Homo sapiens: one gene and its partners. The protein of the gene in region 1 interacts with the protein of each later gene in a biochemical or structural test. Each region holds a gene or a part of one and is shown in the gene's direction. Other genes may lie near its edges. The genes, in order: GDA, DLG3 and SNTA1.

Region 1 (7,500 bases):
AGGCAGGCATTTATTTCACTGTACAATGACAACTTCTCTCCTAGATAAGAGAGGAAAAGTGGCCTCTCATTTAAACTGCTTCCCTGCACTCTCTGTACCTCATGAAAACCTGAGTTATTTTCGATAGCCCATTCTACTGACCTACGCTGATTGGATTCCTGTTTTTCTCAAGGCCCATTATTCCCTTTAGTTTTACTGCAGGCTAGATCTGAGTGTCACCAGCAACTGTTGGAAAACCATGTACAATGTGAAAGTTGTAGATGACAGCCCACAGTGCAGTGGCCAAGTGAGTCATGGCAAAACTGAATGAACAATTCCTGGGAGTTTACTGTGATGAGACAATGTATGAGAACAACTGGACTCAAGATCCAAGTCCATCCTATATTAACTGCACAGGCAAGCCAACCTCCCTGAACCCCAGTTTCCCCATCTGTGGAATGTTTAAAATACATCCTCTTCCTATTTTATAGGGTTGTTGAGAGGCTCAAAATTAGATAATAGAGGAGAAAGCCTTTTCAAACAGTCAGGTTCTATCTAGCAAAAAGGACTGACTGACTAAGCTACAGGTATAATTACATTCATGAGATGAGCAAAATGTCAAAGCTAATCATGCTATGGTCTAGGTTTTGGCCTCAGGCAATTGGAGGTTTAGAACACGATGATCCCACCCCAGTAGTTGGGGAATTTGGGGGCTACTTGGCTCCATCTGAAATAGAGAAAATTGAGATTGTAAGAAATGAAGCTTTAAAATTTTTCTCTATGTCTGAACATTCTCATAAAATGTTGGAAAACTAAATAAATGAAATAAAACTCATCCTTAAGTTCTAGTCCCAATGAATTGTTCACCATTAGCAGACACCCACTATAGCCTCTTAATTTTTATGACTAAAATATAGGCACTAGAGCCATCTCCTGCAATTCAATATTCATATAAATCTATTGAGCACCTCCTAGTGACCAGGGACTGTGTTAAGGGGATGGATACACAGAAAGAAAGAGGACATGGTCCTTCAGAAAAACACATCTTCTTTGGGGTATAGATGAGTAATGGAACAATTACAGCACACCCACAAACTCAGGGGAGGAACACTTAACACTCTAGAGCAGAAATGTAAAGATATCCTGGATAAAGGTGAGGGGGGGTTGGGGGTTGGGGGAGTGGGTGGGACAATGAGGCAGACATGGTGTAAGGTGGTAAAAGGGCACCACAGGCAGAGAGAAGAGTGTGAGCAAAGCGGATTCATAGCATATGGGAGAGTGGAGGTAGCCAAGCCTGAAGAAGCAGCCAGGGAATATTCCATGCCAAGGCGGGGCTCTTTTTTTCTGAAGGAAGTGATATGTGGGGGTGGAGCACTAATGATGCTTGGGCTGTATTTTGAGGGTGAATATGAAAGCTCTGTACTCCCTCTTTCCTCCAAACCTCTGTAGCCAGGAGAATATTTCCCTGGGGATACCAGAATGGGAGTCAAAATTGCAGGAGGACCAGCAATTTAAAGGAGTTGCCACCTCCGAGAGTGGAGTCTCACCCTGTTGCCCACGCTGGAGTGCAGTGGTTCAATCCTGGCTCACTGCAATCTCTGCCTCCCGGGTTCAAGCGATTCTCCTGCTTCAGCCTCCCTAGTAGCTGGGACTACAGGTGTGCGCCACCACACTTGGATAATTTTTTATATTTTTGGTAGAGACGGGGTTTCACCATGTTGACTAGGCTGGTCTCGAACTCCTCACCTCAAGTGATCCGCCCTCCTCAGCCTCCCAAAGTGCTGGGATTACAGTCATGAGCCACCATGCCTGGCTGGGAAGCCAAGACTTCTGGCATGTGGCTGAGCCATGCTGCCTGGCAGTATAGCACCCAGGGCTTCTGGATCCTGGGCCCAGGTACCTACAACTTGACTGGGAATGGAAGTGGAACTATGCATTGCTCAAAAGAGCTAAAATTTACCTGAGGAGCACTAATGCCATGTCACCTGGAGGTTCATGGCCAATCCTTCTGCTTAAGACGATTAATTTCTTTAAAAGCATCATAATGATTATTCATCCTATAAACCACATAGTAACAACATTAAAAAAATCAAAACAAAATTCTCTACCTAGCAATTCCATTATCTCAACAGAACAACACACATTGTTTGATGTACCTTTTCAATTCCAGCAAATATGCTTATAGCTTTTCATGGTTTTCATCGTAGCATAGAAGCTGTTTTTTGTTTGTTTGTTTTGTTTTGTTTTTTTGAGACCGAGTCTTGGTCTGTCACCAGGCTGGAATGCAGTGGCGTGATCTCAGCTCACTGCAACCTCCGCCTCCGGGGTTCAAGCAATTTTCCTGCCTCACCCTCCTGAGTAGCTGGGACTACAGGCACGCATCACCACACCCAGCTAATTTTTGTATTTTTAGTAGAGATGGGGTTTCACCATGTTGGCCAGGATAGTCTCAATCTCGACCTCGTGATCCACCCGCCTCGGCCTCCCAAAGTGTTGGGATTACAGGCGTGAGCCATCGTGCCCAGCCAGAAGCCATTTTTGAAAGCTTAACATTGTGGCTATATATTTCTCCTGTTGTTTTTAATAACTGTATAATGTTCTATCAAGTAGATATATTCTAGTTCATAAAACTAGTCTCTATTTTTTTTTTTTGACATTTAGGTTTTCATTAAAACCTAATCATCAAAAAAATTATTAACCGTATCTGTTTTAGGAAAGTAATACATCTGTTGGAAACATCTGATTGAATCCTATCTCAAAAGCCATTTTCTTCACCTTTCTGTCTGAGGTTTTTGTGTATACAAGGGAATGTTTTCAGTGTGCTGGCTGTCGGTACTGCCAGGAGGGAGTGCAGTTGGCAGAATCAGGAGAAAGTGACAAGGAGCAGGGACAAGTGTAATGACCTCAGCTGCAGAGATTCCTAATTCTGGATCCCTGGTAGGGTGATCAACCATCTGTGTGCATGGTTCTGACGGTTTTCCTGAACGGCCTTTCAGTGCTAAAACCAGGAAAGTGCCTGGTAAACCAGGATTTGTTGGTCACCTTAGACATTGGTTATGGGGGAGCTGAAGGAACTGAGAAGGGAACGAATCATTTCTATAAGCCAGCCCTGTGTCTTAAAAGCAGCAATTCAGAGAAAAACTGCTCACACACTGCAATGAAACCCTCACCCTTTATGTAGTTGTCAAAATAGTTATTTGTCTCAGGTTATGGCTCTGCTCACAGAAAAACCATCCATTCATTTATTCAATAAACATGTATGGAACACCGGCATTGTTCTAGGCATAAGACACATTCCCTGCTCCTGTGGTGCTTCTGTTATTGGTGTGTGTATGTGTGTGTGTGTGTGTGTGTGTGTGTGTGTGTGTGTGTGTGTATTGGTGAGAGGGAAACAGGAGTAAACTAAAAAACACAAAATAAAGAAGAATGGACACAATAAATGCAATGGCAGAAACAAGATGGATTAGTGGAGTAGAAACTGCTGGGAGTCCGGTGCCACTTGGTGGTCAGGAAAGGTGACTCCGAAGAGCCTGACATTTGAGACAAATCAGTGGTGAGAAGAGCTGCCAAGTAAAGCGCCACAAGAGGGATTAGGGGCAGAAGGAACAGCACGTTAGAGGGCCCTGAATGGAAGCCAGCTGGGTTTCATGGAGGAACTTAGTGAAGGACCCTGTGGTCATTGTGTAGGGTGGGAACGCTGACCCTAGTTATGACCCAGTCCAAGCTCCATTTTCATAAGTGGGGATGATAAGCACACTGAGGCCCACGTGTCTTGTCCACAGTCTCTTGATTCCCAATTCAGCACCCATGGTACCATTGCTGCCTATTTGACTTGAGAACTTAATTTTCTCCCTTTGTACAACTGGAAGTAAATAAAAGAGATTCATTCATTTTACACGAGAAAAATTGGTATTGGAATTGTTTGCGGACAAACACAAGAACCAAAAACATTAGCCTCAAGGTGAAGAGAGGAACCTTGGCGTCCACAATGACACCCAGTTTAGGGGTCCCCAGAGATGTTCGGTAAGACATGCTTCCAGAACCTTCCAGGTGAGGACCAATACTAATTCTGCAGTCTACATAAACTAAAAATGAAACTGGTCATAAGGTAGGCAGCCCCAGCTGACCTTTCACCTGTGCCTGAACTAATGCAAGTACAGGACCTGAGTGCTACAGGTTGAAGAAGTAAGTGATCCTAGGAGTTGAAGGGTCAGAGGAGCCAGGCTGACACAACTCATAGAAGGTGGAGGAAGCTGATCTTCTGAGCCTCAGCTGTGGTTGATCTTGATAACTCAAAGAGTTAACACAACCAAAACTAACGCAAGGGTGGAGAGAAAGACCACACCCCACGGGAGCGCGGAGCCAACTCGCGGGAGAAAAATCCTATTGGCATTGAGGAGGTAGGGAGCCAGCCCCTGGGCGCGGCCTGCAGGGTACCGGCAACCGCCCGGGTAAGCGGGGGCAGGACAAGGCCGGAGCCTGTGTCCGCCCGGCAGCCGCCCGCAGCTGCAGAGAGTCCCGCTGCGTCTCCGCCGCGTGCGCCCTCCTCGACCAGCAGACCCGCGCTGCGCTCCGCCGCTGACATGTGTGCCGCTCAGATGCCGCCCCTGGCGCACATCTTCCGAGGGACGTTCGTCCACTCCACCTGGACCTGCCCCATGGAGGTGCTGCGGGATCACCTCCTCGGCGTGAGCGACAGCGGCAAAGTAAGCAGGCGCGGGGTCGAGCGCACTCCGACGGGCGGGAGGATAGGTGCAAGGAACCTGGCGCGGTGCTTCGCGTAGCCCGGGGTTCGCTCGGTGCGCAGTGAGCGCCGCGGCTCCGGAGTTGAACTTGAGTCTTTGGCTCTTGGGCAACGCAGAGAGAACCCTGGCGCTAGGTTCGTGGGCTGGCTGGGGAGTTCCCAGAAGTCGGGAGCAGTGGCGTGCTAACGCCACAACTGGCTCGACAGCAGTCCGGGCTGCGGTAGAGCCGGGAGCAAGGATGTCACCCCCCGCTCCCCCGCCCCCCGTTCCAATCCTAAGATACCGGCAATAATCTTCAATCTTGCTTAAATCATCTTTGTTTCCAACACCTAGCACTGTGCCTGGCACAGGAGGCTCTCCATAAATGTGGTTGAATTTATTGTGAAAGAAATAAGAGGAGGGGGTCATTTGATTGATGTTGTTTAGCGTGTCCAGAACATAGAATAAATAGAACTGATTACATTCACCCTATCATTCAACAGAGATAATATACTAACGATGAAGGTTCCACAACTTGTAATACTAGAAGGGATGGTCCGAAAGAAATAATTCATCCATCTCTTTTCCTTCCTCTCTCTCTCTTATACACACACGCGTACACACACACACACACACGCACGCACACACACACACACACCATAGCCATTTGCATCAAAGCAAGCAGTTCCATTTTAAGGTTCAAAATGTCTTCTTTGAATGTATCTTTTACACTTCCTTTTCCAAAATCAGGATTTCTACAAATGACACAGGTAACTTGATGTCTACTATTTACTGTTCCATACACACATATAGTGACTATATCAGCCATGGCCTGGCAAGTTTGATAAGTGAAGCCATTCCATTTTTTAGAACAAAAAAATGATAAAATAAATATGGAGATGGGATTTTTTGAGCTGTTTTCCAACTACTGGTTTGGTTAGCAAAAGTACACATACTTGTGATTTGTCAAGTTGAAGATACTATTCTTGACTAAGATGCTACCGAGTCGGTGACAGTTTTGAATCGTGACTCTTACATTTGGGGGTAACTAAACACTGTTTTCTCATGGTGCTTTAAAAAATACTCTTTCTATGCACGTTCAGGGAGCCTGCTGTTGTGTTTCCAAGGTGATAAAACTCTCAGAGCTCTCCCAGGGAGATTCCGGTAAACCCTGAGACTGATGAACCCATGCTTGGGGACTTGGTCCTCAAGTTTCAGGGAACTCAGGTTTGGGGCAAGTCCCAGGAAGCAAAGGAACGGAGATTGCTAAACTGGTGTAAGATTAGAGGTGTTATTTTAATCACAAGAAGCTGTTCAACTCTTGGGTTTCTTTTTTAAAAATTAATTTCCCATATCCAGAATTGTAATTGGTAGGGTAACAGGCAACTGGTTTTACCAGTGGAGAGGAATAAGAAAAGGAAGTAATAAAAATACCTTTTCTGGTGCTTGTACAGAAGAAGAATAAAAGAGTTTCCCAAACACACAATTAGTAGTTGAGTCAGGGAGTCTATTCCTCACTAAAAATCATACTGAAGTTATAAATTTAGAAAACATGCCCTTCCCCCACAAGACAAAATGACTTAGGAATTGAATACAAAGGTGAGTTAGTCAGTGGCTGGAATGTATGGTACAGAGCTCCTGAACCAGTGGATTGCTAACTGTTGCTCTCCTCTCCTCCTAGGTGCAAGGCAGTTGATACCTGGCTGTGTTTAAAGAGAGAGCATGCCATACATATTTCAAAACTTGACATCCCCCATTTCAAAATGGAGAGTATCTTACTTTTAGAGTTGCTGGGATAAATATATTATTTATTTAAACATTTCAAGGTTCAAAAAAGAAAATAATACGCCTTTGGAATACAGAAATATGTTGAATTATTATGATCTGTAATTTTTTTTTTGGTTTTTTTTTGTTTGTTTTTTTTTGAGATGGAGTCTCGCTCTGTCACCCAGGCTGGAGTGTAGTGGCTTGATCTTGGCTCACTGCAAGCTCTGCCTCCCGGGTTCATGCCATTCTCCTGCCTCAGCCTCCCGAGTAGCTGGGACTACAGGCGCCACCACGCCCCACTGATTTTTTTGTATTTTAAGTAGAGTTGGGGTTTCAATGTGTTAACAGGATGGTCTTGATCTCCTGACCTCGTGATCCCCCTGCCTCGGCCTCCCAAAGTGCTGGGATTACAGGCGTGAGCCACCGCGCCGGCCAATGATCTGTAAATTTTTACTCCTAAATTTTTAGGAGCTCAAACCTTGCAATGAATCAGAAATATCTAGGGGTGCTTGATAATATGCTGATTTCTGGGCATCATCCTCAGAGACTCTGAATCTATAGACCTGGGGTAGGCCCCAGAAAGTGGCATTCCAACAAGCATCCCAGGAGATTCAGACGCAGGTAGCGGGTGGATTATAGCAGCGGGTGGATTACATTTTGAATAACTGTAACACATAGTTTCTGTGATGGGACAAGCTGTGTGAAGTATCAGGAGCTTATTTCTCCATTGCAAGTTTAGATCTGGGGTAGAATCTCAGCGAGAGGGCACAAAGCTTACTCTGTCCTTCTGGTCTCGCTTTTAAACTTTATTCCTTATTTTGTATAACTTCGTTTAGGCCCAGAGAATGCCAATGACTAACTGCTCTTAATACATTAAATTAAAGCTCATTCAAAAGCAGGTTAATTAAAAGAAATTATCTAGCCAACTTTTTGGTATAAAGCAAAATACAGAGTTATACTTTCTGCTCAAGTAGCATGTAGCTTTTAAGAATATAGACTCTAATGATTGCCATTCTAACTGGTGTGAGCT
Region 2 (7,364 bases), on another chromosome or scaffold:
TGTAATCCCAGCACTTTGGGAGGCTGAGGTGGGCAGATCACTTGAGCCCAGGAGTTCAAGACCAGCTTGGGCAACATGGCGAAACCCTGTCTCTATTAAAAATACAAAAATTAGCTGGATGTGGTGATGCACACCTGTAGTCCCAGCTACTCAGGGGGCTGAGGTGGGAGGATCACCTGAGCTTGGGAGATCGGGGCTGCAGTAAGCTGTGATTGTGCCACTACATTCTAGCTTGGGTGACAAAATGAAACAGAGTCTCAAAGAAAAAAAAATGAACAGAGCCTCAGGGATGCTTGGGACTATAACGAAGGACTTAACATTCACATAATTGGAGATGTGGAAGAAGAAGAGAAAGAGCATGGGGCTAAAAAAAATTACTCAAGAAATAATGGCTGAAAATTTGGCAAAAGACATAAATGAACAGGTTCAAGAGGTTGAACAAACCCCAAATAGGATAAACTCAAATTCACCCCAAGGCACATCATAATCAAACTTCTGAAAACTGAAGATGGGAAACTTGAAAGCAGCAAGAGAGAAACAACACCTTACCTACATAGGAAAAGGAATTCAAATGTGGCCAGGTACAGTGGCTAACACCTGTAATTCCAATACTTTGGGAGGCCAAGGTGGGAGGATAACCCAAGGCCAGGAGTTTGAGACCAGCCTGGGCAACATAATGAGACCTCGTCTCTACTAAAAATAAAAAAATTAACCAGGAGTGGTGTGCGCCTATAGTCCCACCTACTGAGGAGCCTGCTTGGGAGACTGAGGCAGGAGGATCACTTTGAGGCCAGGAGTTTCAAGGCTGCAGTGAACTATGGTCACACCACTGCACTCCAGCATGCTATATCTGGTGAAAATATCCTTCAGGAATGAGGGGGAAATCAAGACATTCTCAGACAAAGGAAAGCTAAGATAATTTGTTGCCAGCAGACAAAGAATGGCTAAAGGAAGTTATCAAAACTTACAGATGAATAATGGAACCATTTACATGTAATGAAACTTACATGTAAATGGTTCAGAAAAAGGGATAGATAGATAGATAGATAGATAGATAGATAGATAGAGCATTAACTGGGCATGGTGGCACACACCTGTGGTCCCAGCCACTTGTGAGGCTGAGGTGGGAGGATTGCTTGAGCCCGGGAGTTTGAGGTTGCAGTGAGCCATGATCACGCCACTGCACTCTAACCTGAGTGAGTGAGCAAGACCTACTCTTTAAAAAATATAGATAGATGGATAGATACATAGATACATAGACAGAGCAAATATAACAATCAAAACAAGTCAAATTGTCGACTTGATAAGGAAGGCATACAGTGGTGTCCATTGTACTACTCTTCCAATATTTTTGTATGTTTGTAAATTTTCATTTTTAAAACTGTTGGAGAGGATATGTGGAGGATAGATATATGATAAAGCAAGCATAGCAAAATGTTAATGAGAATCCTAGGCAGTGGGTAATTGGATGTTCACTGTAAAATTCTTTGAATTTTTCTGTATGTTTGAAAACTTTCATATTAAACTGTGGGGGCAAAAAACTTGAAAAAAAAATCACAACTTGGTATCCTCCCCTACCATTCCCAATCCATCTTACTGTGCTCTACTTTTTATTTTTTTCCATGGCACTTATCACCATATACACAGCAGGTGTATATGCTGAATAATGTTGTTTTCTTCAACATCATTTTGTTTTAACATTGATGAGGGGGAAAAAAAAACAACTAAAACGATTCCTGGCCAGAGCCACTGTCTGTGTGGAGTTTGCACACTCTCCCCATGTATGTGTGGGTTTTCTCGGGTATTCCAGGGTACTGCGCTTCCTCCCACATCCCAGTGCACGTTAGGTGAATTGGCGTGTCTAAATTGTCCCAGTGTGAGTGAGTGTGGGTGTGTATGTGAGCGCACCCTGTGATGGAATGGCATCCTGTCCAGGATTGGTTCCTGCCCTGTACCCTGAGCTGCTGTGATAGGCTGTGGCCACCCTTGACCCTGAACTGAAATAAGCAGATTGAAAAATGAATGAATGGATGGATGGATGGATGGATGGATGGATACAAAGTACTGTAAAATAAAAATTTGTCAAGTAGTTGATAATCATACAAATGCACAATAAACTATGAGGTAAGAAAGTGCTCATCGAGCTCACCATATTCGTGATTGTTTGCTTTTGAACTGCATGGTGGTAGGGAGGTGCTCCTTACAATTTTCGCTTTGCATACATTTATTCCTTGATTCAACCCACCACCACTTCCACTGCTGTCACTCACTGGTTCACCAAAGGTTAGGTAATTATTTACTTGTTTTCATTAATCTTTCTATATGTATGCATAGCTCATATTTATTTCAATGTTCAATATCAGAAGTGTTTTGGGTCTTTATTTGGAAGCTGGGTGATGTTTTGTGACCAGAAATATGCTGTAGGAACTTAGCTCTTGTTTATATTAATTAGCCTGTGGTAAAATTGGTTTTGTTATACGTTGTTTCACTTAGTCCCAGTTGCCAAGGACCTACCAATGATGTTAAATGAGGACCTACTGTACTACATAATTCACTTATTTATTGTGTTTATTTTTGTCTGTGTCCTCTCACTAGGAGGTAAGCTCCCCAAGGGCAGGGATTTGTTCTGTTTGTTCTGTTTTATTTTGTTTCCTGCTATATCCCCAAATCCTACAACAGTGTCTGGCACACAGCAAGTGTTCCACGCATATTTGTTGAATTAAGAATGAATCTCTGAGGGCCGGGCACAGTGGATCACACCTGCAATCCCAGCACTTTGGGAGGCCAAGGTGGGTGGATCACTTGACGTCGGGAGTTCGAGACCAGCCTGGCCAACGTGATGAAACCCCATCTCTACTAAGAAAATACAAAAATTAGCCGGGCGTGGTGGCAGGAGCCTGTAGTCCTAGCTACTAGGGAGACTGAGAGGCAGGAGAATCGTTTGAACCTGGGAAGCTGAGGTTGCAGTGAGCTGAGATCACGCCACTGCACTCCAGCCTGGGTGACAGAATGAGAATCCATCTCAAAAAAAAAAAAAAAAAAAAAAAAGAACCTCTGTATCCCTAATACCTAGGTCAAGGTCTTGCACAGAGCAGGTGCTCAATGAATATTTGCTGAATTGAACTGAGATGTAAATTCTGCAGGAGAACTTAGAATAGACCTGTCGTACTAGAGTGGTTCACAGCGTGGACTCTGGAGTCAAATAATCAGGATTTGCATCCTGATTCTGTCACTTCCAGCTGTGTTACCTAGCTGTGTTAACATCTTTGAGCCTCAATTTCTCATTGGTAAAATGAAGATAATAATAGCATCAGCTTGGTAGGATTTGGGTTTGCGTGTTATGCACTTAGGACTTTGTAAAGACCCAATAATTGGTAGCTAAAAACAAAACAAGAACTGCAAAAAAGATAGTCTTTCTTGTATGTCATCCTTCCTCCATTCCCCCGACAAGCTGAGCCAGGAGAGGGTAAGGAGATGTCCTTGGACAAGTATTCCTAAGCTCTATTCCAGACCCATAGAAGGGTTTCTCTCTCTTCAAATCCCTTCTTACCTTTTCACCTGTCCTGGACTTTCATCTTGATATCCTGAAGTTCCTTCCCCCATCATAACCATGCAGGGGTGGAGTGGAGGAGATAGGGGTTTGTGGGCCAGGGACAAGGACTTAGAGCTTTCTGTTAATCCCTGTTCTAGGGTTGAGTTCTTTACTGGTGATGGTAGAAGGTCAAGTGTGAGGTCACAGTAATTTCAGGGCCTAGAGACTGAGAGAACAATAGTCTTGTGTAGGAGGCATTGACAGGACAGCGGGCCTCATATGCTGCCTTCTTCTTTGGTCCCCTGTAAGAGAAAGCACCTCCCTCACCCTGCTCCAACGTCCTTTCTGTCCATCCTGCTACCTCGTCTTTACTTCTGGTGGCCCCAGCTCAGAGCAAGCCTGGGGACCCATTGAACATCTCCCTGCAACTCCCTCTTGGAAGTGGGGTGGGGTGGAGTGGGCAGAGGACAGGCTAAAACTGGCGATATAAGGGCACAAGATCGGGTGCCTGAGCTTTCTGGTGGCCCACGTCCTCTGCCCCCGCCCTTAGAGCCAACAGTTCCCTAGAGATTGGGGGAGCTGGGGCTGAGCCTGGGGGCGCCGCTGCCTCTGTTCCTTTAAGTAGCCGCTGTTTAGCATTCCTGCCGCCGCCGCTGCCGCTGCCGCTGCCTGCCTCTGCGCGCTGATTGGCTGGAATCAACTGAGAAGGGAGCCAGGGAGAGATGCTCTTGACTCCACTCAGATCCATCCTGGGGACCAGAGCAGAAGCGGTCCTCACAGCACCCATTCTCTGCTTGAGCTCCCGCTTCTTCTTTGCCGCTGGGCCTCGGCCCAGAAGCCACGACGGGCGACACGGAGCCGCCAGTGCTGGAGGGGGAGCCGTGGGTGCGGGGCAGCGTGGGGGCCGAGGCCCCGGGACGCCCGCCCGGCCCCAGGCCCCGCTCAGCCCGGGCGCCCCCACGGGTGCCCCCCCCTTCTTGGTCCGAGCAGTGTGAGTGTGCCAGGGAGCCCGGCGGCGGCGGCGGCGGTGGTGGCGGCGGTGGCGGCGGCGTGGAATCCGGCGTGGGCTGGGGGGTCCGAGCCGCGGGGGGCAGTGCCATGCACAAGCACCAGCACTGCTGTAAGTGCCCTGAGTGCTATGAGGTGACCCGCCTGGCCGCCCTGCGGCGCCTCGAGCCTCCGGGCTACGGCGACTGGCAAGTCCCCGACCCTTACGGGCCAGGTGGGGGCAACGGCGCCAGCGCGGGTTATGGGGGCTACAGCTCGCAGACCTTGCCCTCGCAGGCGGGGGCCACCCCCACCCCTCGCACCAAGGCCAAGCTCATCCCCACCGGCCGGGATGTGGGGCCGGTGCCTCCTAAGCCAGTCCCGGGCAAGAGCACCCCCAAACTCAACGGCAGCGGCCCCAGCTGGTGGCCAGAGTGCACCTGTACCAACCGGGACTGGTATGAGCAGGTATGGACCAGCGGAGGGGGGAGCGGTGGGGCAACCCAGGAGGGCTGGAGAGTGGGGGCCTAGAGGCCTGGGATGCAGTAGGGGTCGCTGGGGCTCCAAGCCTGTGGACCCCGAGCCCTAGCATTGCAGCTGGGCAAAGAGAGGCGGTGGGAAATGTGTGGTTCCCTGTGTGTGTCTGTTTGGGGGTCTCCATTAGAAGACTGGGAGGAGCCGTGTGTCAGGGGGTAAGGGCATGGCGGAGGGGCACATTTTCCTGTGTGGGGGAATTGGGTTTGTCTCAGTGTGGGGGTTTGGCAATGTCTCTGTGTCTGGCAGGGGGCGGGAGGTTCTGCGGGGGCTGTGTGTGGTGTGTGTCTCCACCGGAGGGGAGGGGAGGGGGCATGGTGCTCTGCGTAGGGGGGACATATGTGTGTGTATGTATGTTGGGGTGTGTGGAGGAAGGCAATGGAGCTGCCGTGAATCCGTGTGGAGGAGCCCATGTGCCCGGCTCGCTGAGCTTCATCCCTTGATGCCATGAGTCCCTCTCCGTCCCAGTCCCTTTGTGTGTGAATGTGCACATGGATGTGTGGAGATGTCACTCTGAATGTGGAGAGGTCTCTGTAGAGGAGGCTGCAGGGATGGCTGTGTTTGTGTGTGTGGCTACATGTATATGTGTGTGAGCATGTGGCTGCAAGAGTGTGCACGCGTGTGCCTGGTGTGTGTGTGTGAGTGTGTGTTTGTATGTGTTGTCTCTGGTGAGAGGCGCTTGACAGGCAAGGGAGGGGAGAGGAAGGAGGCGAGAGACATGTCCCAAGCAAGGCTGAGAGGCTGCTGAGAAGGACGGACTCTTTTGTCCAAGCAGCTCTGTAGTGTGTGTGCCGGGGTGGGGTGGCGGGGGGCGGGGGGAGATTTGAAGGAACTGAAGCAAGCCTCCTCGCTCTAGAGCAGGCATGGTGCCTGGAGCCGGCAAGGGGCAGCTGCCCTGGTGCAGAGACTGGCCCCAGTGGGGCATGTCCCCCTTGGGTACCTCCAGATGTGAGAGGGCTTAGCCCCCCAGCCCTGACTTGGCACAGCTTGGGAGCCCCTGGGTGCTGGGCACAACTCCGGCTTCCACTCCCAGCCTAAACTGCCAGCTTAGAAAATGGAAGGAGCATCTGTGGGAGAAGCAGCAAAATGGAGGCTGGGCTGGCAGAGCCAGGTCCCTGGCACGCAAGGCGGAGGGCCTGTCTGGTTATCCGGCTCTGCAGCTCCTAGGGTGGGGAGAGAGGAAGAGGAGGCTTTGCTGTCGAGGGCAGGTGATGACTTCCCCAAGCTGGTGACCGTTCTGGCTGCCTCTGTCCTCTGGGGATAGGATGTGCTCTCACTCAGAGGCAAAGGTGGGGACTTCCTGGGGAGAAGAGCCCTCAGTTCTGGCCTTCTGTCTGTCCACACTTACTGCTTTCCCACATCCCTTGCCTTGGCCTCTTGCCCTTTCCAGCGAGTCCCTCTCTCTCCTTTGCCCCCTCTCTGTCCTGGAGGCCTTTCTCTCGCAAACACCCTCTTATGCTTGTCCTGCCCGGCTGGGAGACAGGTGGCAATCCCAGGCTGGGCCAGTTGGCCAAGGTTTCTTTGCCAGGGCTGATCCCTGGATGGCTCCTGGCCCTGAGAACAAGGTCCTTGAGTAGGGGTGGGGGCTAGAGCGTGGACCACTGGGAACGGGAAGCCTCTGGGTACCACTGGGGCTGGGCTTGAGGCATGGCTTGTCACATGTGGGCACACATGGTACACCAAATGCACACAAGAGCCACATGGGTGTCCCTTTGCTTATGTGTCTGTTGCATGGTACTTAAGGCAGCTGTGTTGGTTTCGGGTCTCTAAGGAGCCTTCAGTTCTTCTTCCTGGGGTCACAGACCAGGGTAAGGCTGTAGCTGGAGTCCTCCCACCAACTCCCACAGCTGCAGAGCCAGCCCAGAAATGGTGGAGGCATGATGAGCTAGTCCTCTCTCCCTCTCCTCCTCTCTGCTTCTTGAAGCCAAAGCTGTGTGGGGTGGAGGTGGGACGGGGGAAGCACAGCAGGACATGTGGAGGAGCCCCCACCCTGGTTTCCAGCTCCCCACTTCTGAGGAGGAGGCTAGAGGTCAGGGAAGGGACAACATAGCCAGAGAAAGGTGGGGGAGGGGTGCCAGGGTACCTGGGGAGACAGGCAAGAGGGCTTCTCCATTCTTGGAGGTGAAAGTGGGAGCCAGCAGGCAGGTGCTGCTTGTATGTCCAGAATCACATTTTCACTTGACAAATAGATACACACATGTCCTGTCTGGGAGGCCATCTCTGTGGGTTGGCCAAATCACCCCTGTGTTTCTGACCCCTTCCCTTGCCTCTTCTTGCATGGCTACTACATATTGAAAACCATGGACTCTGC
Region 3 (5,418 bases), on another chromosome or scaffold:
CCTGCAGGTATCTGGAGATCTGCTCGGCAGATGGTCAAGACACCCTCTTCCTGAGGGCCAAGGATGAGGCTAGTGCGAGGTCGTGGGCGACTGCCATCCAAGCCCAGGTCAATACTCTGACGCCGCGGGTCAAGGATGAGCTGCAGGCACTGTTGGCAGCCACCAGCACAGCTGGGAGCCAGGACATCAAGCAGATTGGCTGGCTAACTGAGCAGGTACCTGCTGGGCCTGGGACCTATCCCTCTCTCTCTTCCGCTCCTTTGGAGCTGGCCCTGTTCCCAGTGCCCCTGGCCACCTCACCCTGCCCTGGCCCTCTGCCCTCTCTTCCCCCACCCATCCTCACTGCTGTTTTGTTCTCTGCAGCTGCCCAGTGGGGGCACAGCCCCCACCCTGGCCCTGCTAACTGAAAAGGAACTGCTCCTCTACTTGTCTCTCCCCGAGACCCGCGAGGCCCTGAGCCGGCCAGCCCGTACTGCCCCACTCATCGCCACCAGGTACCCACAGGCAGGGGCAGTATGTCTCCCCCAGAACTTGCCAGGAGATGCTCCAGCAGGGCCCCAGAAGCTGGGAACTCCAGCCCTGTCCACCCTCAGCTATTCCCCAGGTGACCTGAAGCAAGTCTCTGCCCTGTCTGGGCCTCAGTTTCCTCATCTGTAAAATGGGTGCTTGGAACAAAAGGATATAAGGTCCCCATTAGCCACTCATTCGCTGACACTTATGCCTTGTGCTGCATGGTTCAGAGGGCACAGAGCTGACCCCAACAGTTTCTGCCTCCAGAGAGAACCTTGTCTGGCTGGGGAGACAGACCCAGGAACAGCCATTACAGTGCAGGGTTTGTAGGAGCCACTTAACTCTGTTGGGGTAGTAGAGGAAGGCTTCAGGGAGGAGGTGACATTTGAGCTGGACTTTGATGGATGAGTAGAAGTTTTCTGTTTAAGAAAGGGTGAAAGAGCATCCCATGCAGAGAGAACATCATGGTCAAAAGTACAGAGGCATGAAGGGCTATAGCATGTTCATGGAGCTATGAGTTTGTGATAACCAGAATTCATGCAGGAAATGGAGAGAAGGGAGTTGGCAGGGCCTGATCTTGAAGAGCTTCTATTGCCTGATTAAGGAATGTTAGCTTTAGCTTAAGAGTTTGGTAGTGTTGAAGGGTTTAAGCTGGGGAGCGAGGTGCTCTGGTTGCTTTAAGAGAATCCCTGTGGCTGCCACGTGGAGAATGCAGCGGAGAGTGCAGGATGGAAGTGGGGAGGTGCTGCAGTCATGCAGGAGAGATGATGGTGGCTGGGGGAGGTGGAGGTGGGTGGCAGGAGCAGATGGGGAAGAAAGGCAGCATTGGCATTGGAAACCACATGGGTGTAAAATTAACAGGGCTCCGTGCTTGCCAGATGGGGCGGGTGAAGGAGGGGTCCGGAATGAACAGGAGGTTTGGAGCTTGTGTCTGGGTGAGCGTGGGACTGGGGGTGGGGGTGGAAAGGGAGGAGGCTGGAGCAAGATGCTGAGTTAAGTCCAGAGTGTGTGTGGGATGGAGAGGGAGCTTGGATAGGAAGCCTGGGGACTCGAGGGTCTGCAGCTCAGGGCTGGAAAGTCGAAGGCGGGTGTCAGCAGCAGTCTGTGGCGGGGGGAACTGAGCTATAGGAGAAAGAGTGGGTGGAGGGAGGAACAAAGAGGGATATGGGGCAGAACTTTCTGCCCCAGAGAGGGGCAGTTGGCTTACCAAGGCCACACAGCAAGTGAGAGTCAAGCTGCAGGGGTCTGAAGTCCTTGTCCCCCATGTCTCCTTACCTCAGGCTGGCTCTGGCCCGTGTGTCAGGAGCCTGCTGGCTACTAGGGATAACTAGGTCCTGGACTGTCTGCCTAATCAAGTGATTCAAGTTAGGCAACAAAAGTTTACTGAGCACCTACTGTGGGCAGGCATGGTTTTAGTTACTGGGAATACAGTGGTGAACACAAGATCAAAATTTCTAACCTAGTTGACATTCTAGTGAAAAAGACAGTCAAAAACCAACGAAAACAAATAATAAAAAGTATAATTTCTGGTACCATGATTAAAAAGTAAGGCTAGTGAGTGACAAGGGTGCTATTTTGGACTGGGAGGTCAGGGAAGGCTTCTCAGAGGAGGTGACATTTAAACTAACATCTGAAGGAAGTGAGGGAGTGAGCCGTGCAGATAATCAGGGAAGCATGTATAGGCAGAGGGAAGAGCATATGCAAAGGTGCTGAGGCAGGCATGTGCTAGGTGTGTGTGATGACACCAGTATAGCCAGAGCCAAGGGAGTGACGGGGAGGGTGGCAGGAGATGTCTCCTGCTGAGTCAATCAGTGCCCCCTGGCAAGTCCTGTCCTGTTAGGTGGTAAAGGATTTACAGGGTTTCTTCCCAGGTCACTGGCCCCTTTGCCCAGAACTATTTGCCTCCGGCCTGAGGCCTCATGCTCAGCCCTCTGCCCCCAACCCCCAGACTGGTGCACTCAGGCCCCTCCAAGGGCTCAGTGCCCTACGATGCAGAGCTCTCTTTTGCCCTGCGCACGGGCACGCGTCACGGTGTGGACACTCACCTGTTCAGCGTGGAGTCACCGCAGGAGCTGGCTGCCTGGACCCGCCAGCTTGTGGATGGCTGTCACCGGGCCGCCGAGGGTGTGCAGGAGGTGTCTACAGGTGTGCTGGGAGGATCTGGGAGTGTCCCTCTGGTAATAAGCCTCTTATCCCCAGGGGCATTCAAGCTTCCTTCTTTAGGGCACTTCAGGAGGGGATAGAAAATGGGGTTTGGAGGTCAAGGTGGGTGGATCACCTGAGGTCAGAAGTTTGAGACCAGTCTGGCAAACATGGCAAAACCCTGTCTCTACTAATAATACAAAAATTGGCCAGGTGCGGTGGCTCACGCCTGTAATCGCAGCACTTTGGGAGGCTGAGGCGGGTGGATCACTTGAGGTCAGCAGTTTGAGACCAGCCTGGCCAAAATGGTGAAACCCTGTCTCTACTAAAAATACAAAAATTAGCCGGGCATGGTGGTGGGCGCCTGTAGTCCTAGCTACTCGGGAGGCTGAGGCAGAATTGTTTGAATCTGGGAGGTGGAGGTTGTAGTGGGCCCAGATTGTGCCACTGCACTCCAGCCTGGGCGACAGAGCAAGACTGTCTCAAAAAAAAAAAATAATAATACAAAAATTAGCCGGGCATGGTACTAGGTGCCTGTAGTCCCAGCTACGCAGGAAGCTGAGGCACGAGAATCACTTGAACCCGGGAGATGGAGGTTGTGGTGAGCCGAGATTGCGCCCACTGCACTCCAGCCTGGGTAACAGAGTGAGACTGTTTCTCCAAAAAAAAAAGGAAGTTGGGTTTGGGCCCTCTGTTTTGGATGTGCAGGTGCCCTAGCAGGCAGAGACTCTTCTCCCTGGGGTTTTCTTGCCCCAGTTTTGTCAATCTGCTGGTGAGGATGTGAGAGATGGCACTTGGGGTAGGGTTGCCAGAGGAAATAAATACAGGACACCCAGCCTCATTTGAATTTCAGGTTAACAATGAATACTTTTTTCACAGAAGTATGCCCAAATTAGTCATTGTTTATCTGAAATTTAAATTTAGCCGGGTAACTCTGCAGGTCTCCAAGGGCGGTGCTTGGTAGATCTGATGATGCCTTTATCAGCAGTGAGCCTCCTGTCCATGGCACATTTTAAGCTCCCCCTTTCTACTTGTGCTGCTGGAAGTGGGACTGGAAGTGGGTGTAGGTCCTCTGAGGGTGGGGGTGATGACTCTCTGCAGGGTGGGTGTACTGGTGCCACGACAAACAGTGAGCCTCCCATCCCTGGAGGCATTCAGGCCCCACTTTGTAAGCTGCGGTGGGGGTTGGAGGTTGGGGTGTAGTCTCTGAGGTGCCAGCTGTGCCTGTACCTATGTGCCCTCCCTGCAGCCTGCACGTGGAATGGGCGTCCCTGCAGCCTGTCTGTGCACATCGACAAGGGCTTCACACTGTGGGCGGCTGAGCCAGGTGCAGCCCGAGCTGTGCTCCTGCGACAGCCCTTCGAGAAGCTGCAGATGTCTTCAGATGACGGTGCCAGTCTCCTTTTCCTGGATTTTGGAGGTGCTGAAGGCGAGATCGTGAGTGAGGGGCTGCCTCTGCACCCTGGGGAGGAGGGGGTGTGCACTCTCGGAGGCCAGGCTGGCCAGGGCCCTGACTCTTCTCTCCATCCACCCTCCAGCAGCTGGACCTGCACTCGTGTCCCAAAACCATAGTCTTCATCATCCACTCCTTCCTGTCGGCCAAAGTCACCCGCCTCGGGCTGTTGGCCTAGAAGTCGCCGGATGCACTAGCCCTGAAGAGGGGTGTCCATGACATGGCCTGAGCTGGGCCTCCACCGACTGCCTGCTCACCCCTGGGCTGAGGGAAGGGAGAGGAGAGGAACAAGGGCCTCCGAAACCCCAACCCTGAGGGAGACTGGATTGGTCTTGGGGCCCAGGACCCAGACGCAGGACAGAGTGGACTCTGCCTGTGATGGGGTGGCCTTCCTGCTGCCCCCCTCCACCAGTGCCTTTTGCAGAGAGATATTTTGTGTACACAGAAGCCATTCCGAGTCTGGGACCTGCCCCTGTGCGGATCCTGACCCCAGCCAACAGCTGAGCTGCCGGGCCTCCTCGAGGCCCCTAAGCCACCCCCAGAGGTCCCATCTGAAGCTGGAGTACCCTGGGGTCAGCAGCAAGAGAAAGAAGAGGAGATTTTCTGTTTGTTTTTCCCCTCAGCCCTGCCACCGTGGGGAGTCTGGTTTTTCTCTTCATCCTGTCTCTCTCCTCCTTACTCTTGGATAAATAAACAGCCTGTGAGCACACAGGCAGCCCGGCCCAGTGTATGTGGTCTGTGCCTTGGCCTTTGGGTCCTGGGGTGGCCCCTGCAGTCCCAAGATGGACCAGACCAAGGACTAGGGCACCTTTCCCTGGAGAAGAACAGACCTTTACTACATGGGCCAAAGACAGTGTATTGGTTATCTATTGTTGTGTGACAAATTATCCAAAATTTGCAGCTTAAAATGACAAATATTCATTATCTCTTAGGTTCTGTGGGTCAGAAATTTGAGAGGGGCTAAGCTGGGCTGTTCTTGTCTCAGGGTCGCTCATGAGGTTGCAGTCAAGTTGTCGGCTAGGGCTGCAGTCATCTGAAGGCTTGACTGGGGCTGGAGGATCCATTCCAATACTGCTCATGCACATGGCTGTGGGTAGGAGGTCTCAGTTCCTCACCATGTAGGGCTAACCCTAGAGCTGCTGCTTGAGTTTTCTCATGATATGGCAGTTGGCTTTCCCCACAGTGAGACAGAAGAGAGGGCAAGGAGGAAGCCACAAACAGTGCCTCTTATGACCCGGTCTTGGAAGCCTTACACTGTTGCTTCTGCTTTGTTCTATTCATTAGAAATGAGTCACTAAGTTCAGTCCACACTC

The links.
Region 2: the proteins of GDA (region 1) and DLG3 form a complex in vitro, tested with the Homo sapiens proteins (2 studies listed by BioGRID and IntAct, with this or other methods).
Region 3: the proteins of GDA (region 1) and SNTA1 interact in a test that uses a peptide from one of them, tested with the Homo sapiens proteins (2 studies listed by BioGRID and IntAct).

What each region holds. Positions count from the first base shown.
Region 1 is NC_000009.12:72,144,998-72,152,497, forward strand, and holds the start of GDA (guanine deaminase), read left to right. Parts: upstream 1-4,442; 5' UTR 4,443-4,562; coding exon 4,563-4,685; intron 4,686-7,500. UniProt on the Homo sapiens protein: Catalyzes the hydrolytic deamination of guanine, producing xanthine and ammonia.
Region 2 is NC_000023.11:70,440,572-70,447,935, forward strand, and holds the start of DLG3 (disks large homolog 3), read left to right. Parts: upstream 1-4,263; 5' UTR 4,264-4,630; coding exon 4,631-4,987; intron 4,988-7,364. UniProt on the Homo sapiens protein: Required for learning most likely through its role in synaptic plasticity following NMDA receptor signaling.
Region 3 is NC_000020.11:33,407,372-33,412,789, reverse strand, and holds the end of SNTA1 (alpha-1-syntrophin), read left to right. Parts: exon of another isoform or gene 1-7; coding exon 8-215; exon of another isoform or gene 216-363; coding exon 364-494; coding exon of another isoform or gene 495-604; exon of another isoform or gene 605-2,458; coding exon 2,459-2,655; coding exon of another isoform or gene 2,656-2,687; exon of another isoform or gene 2,688-2,737; intron 2,738-3,901; coding exon 3,902-4,089; intron 4,090-4,190; coding exon 4,191-4,283; 3' UTR 4,284-4,833; downstream 4,834-5,418. UniProt on the Homo sapiens protein: Adapter protein that binds to and probably organizes the subcellular localization of a variety of membrane proteins. May link various receptors to the actin cytoskeleton and the extracellular matrix via the dystrophin glycoprotein complex.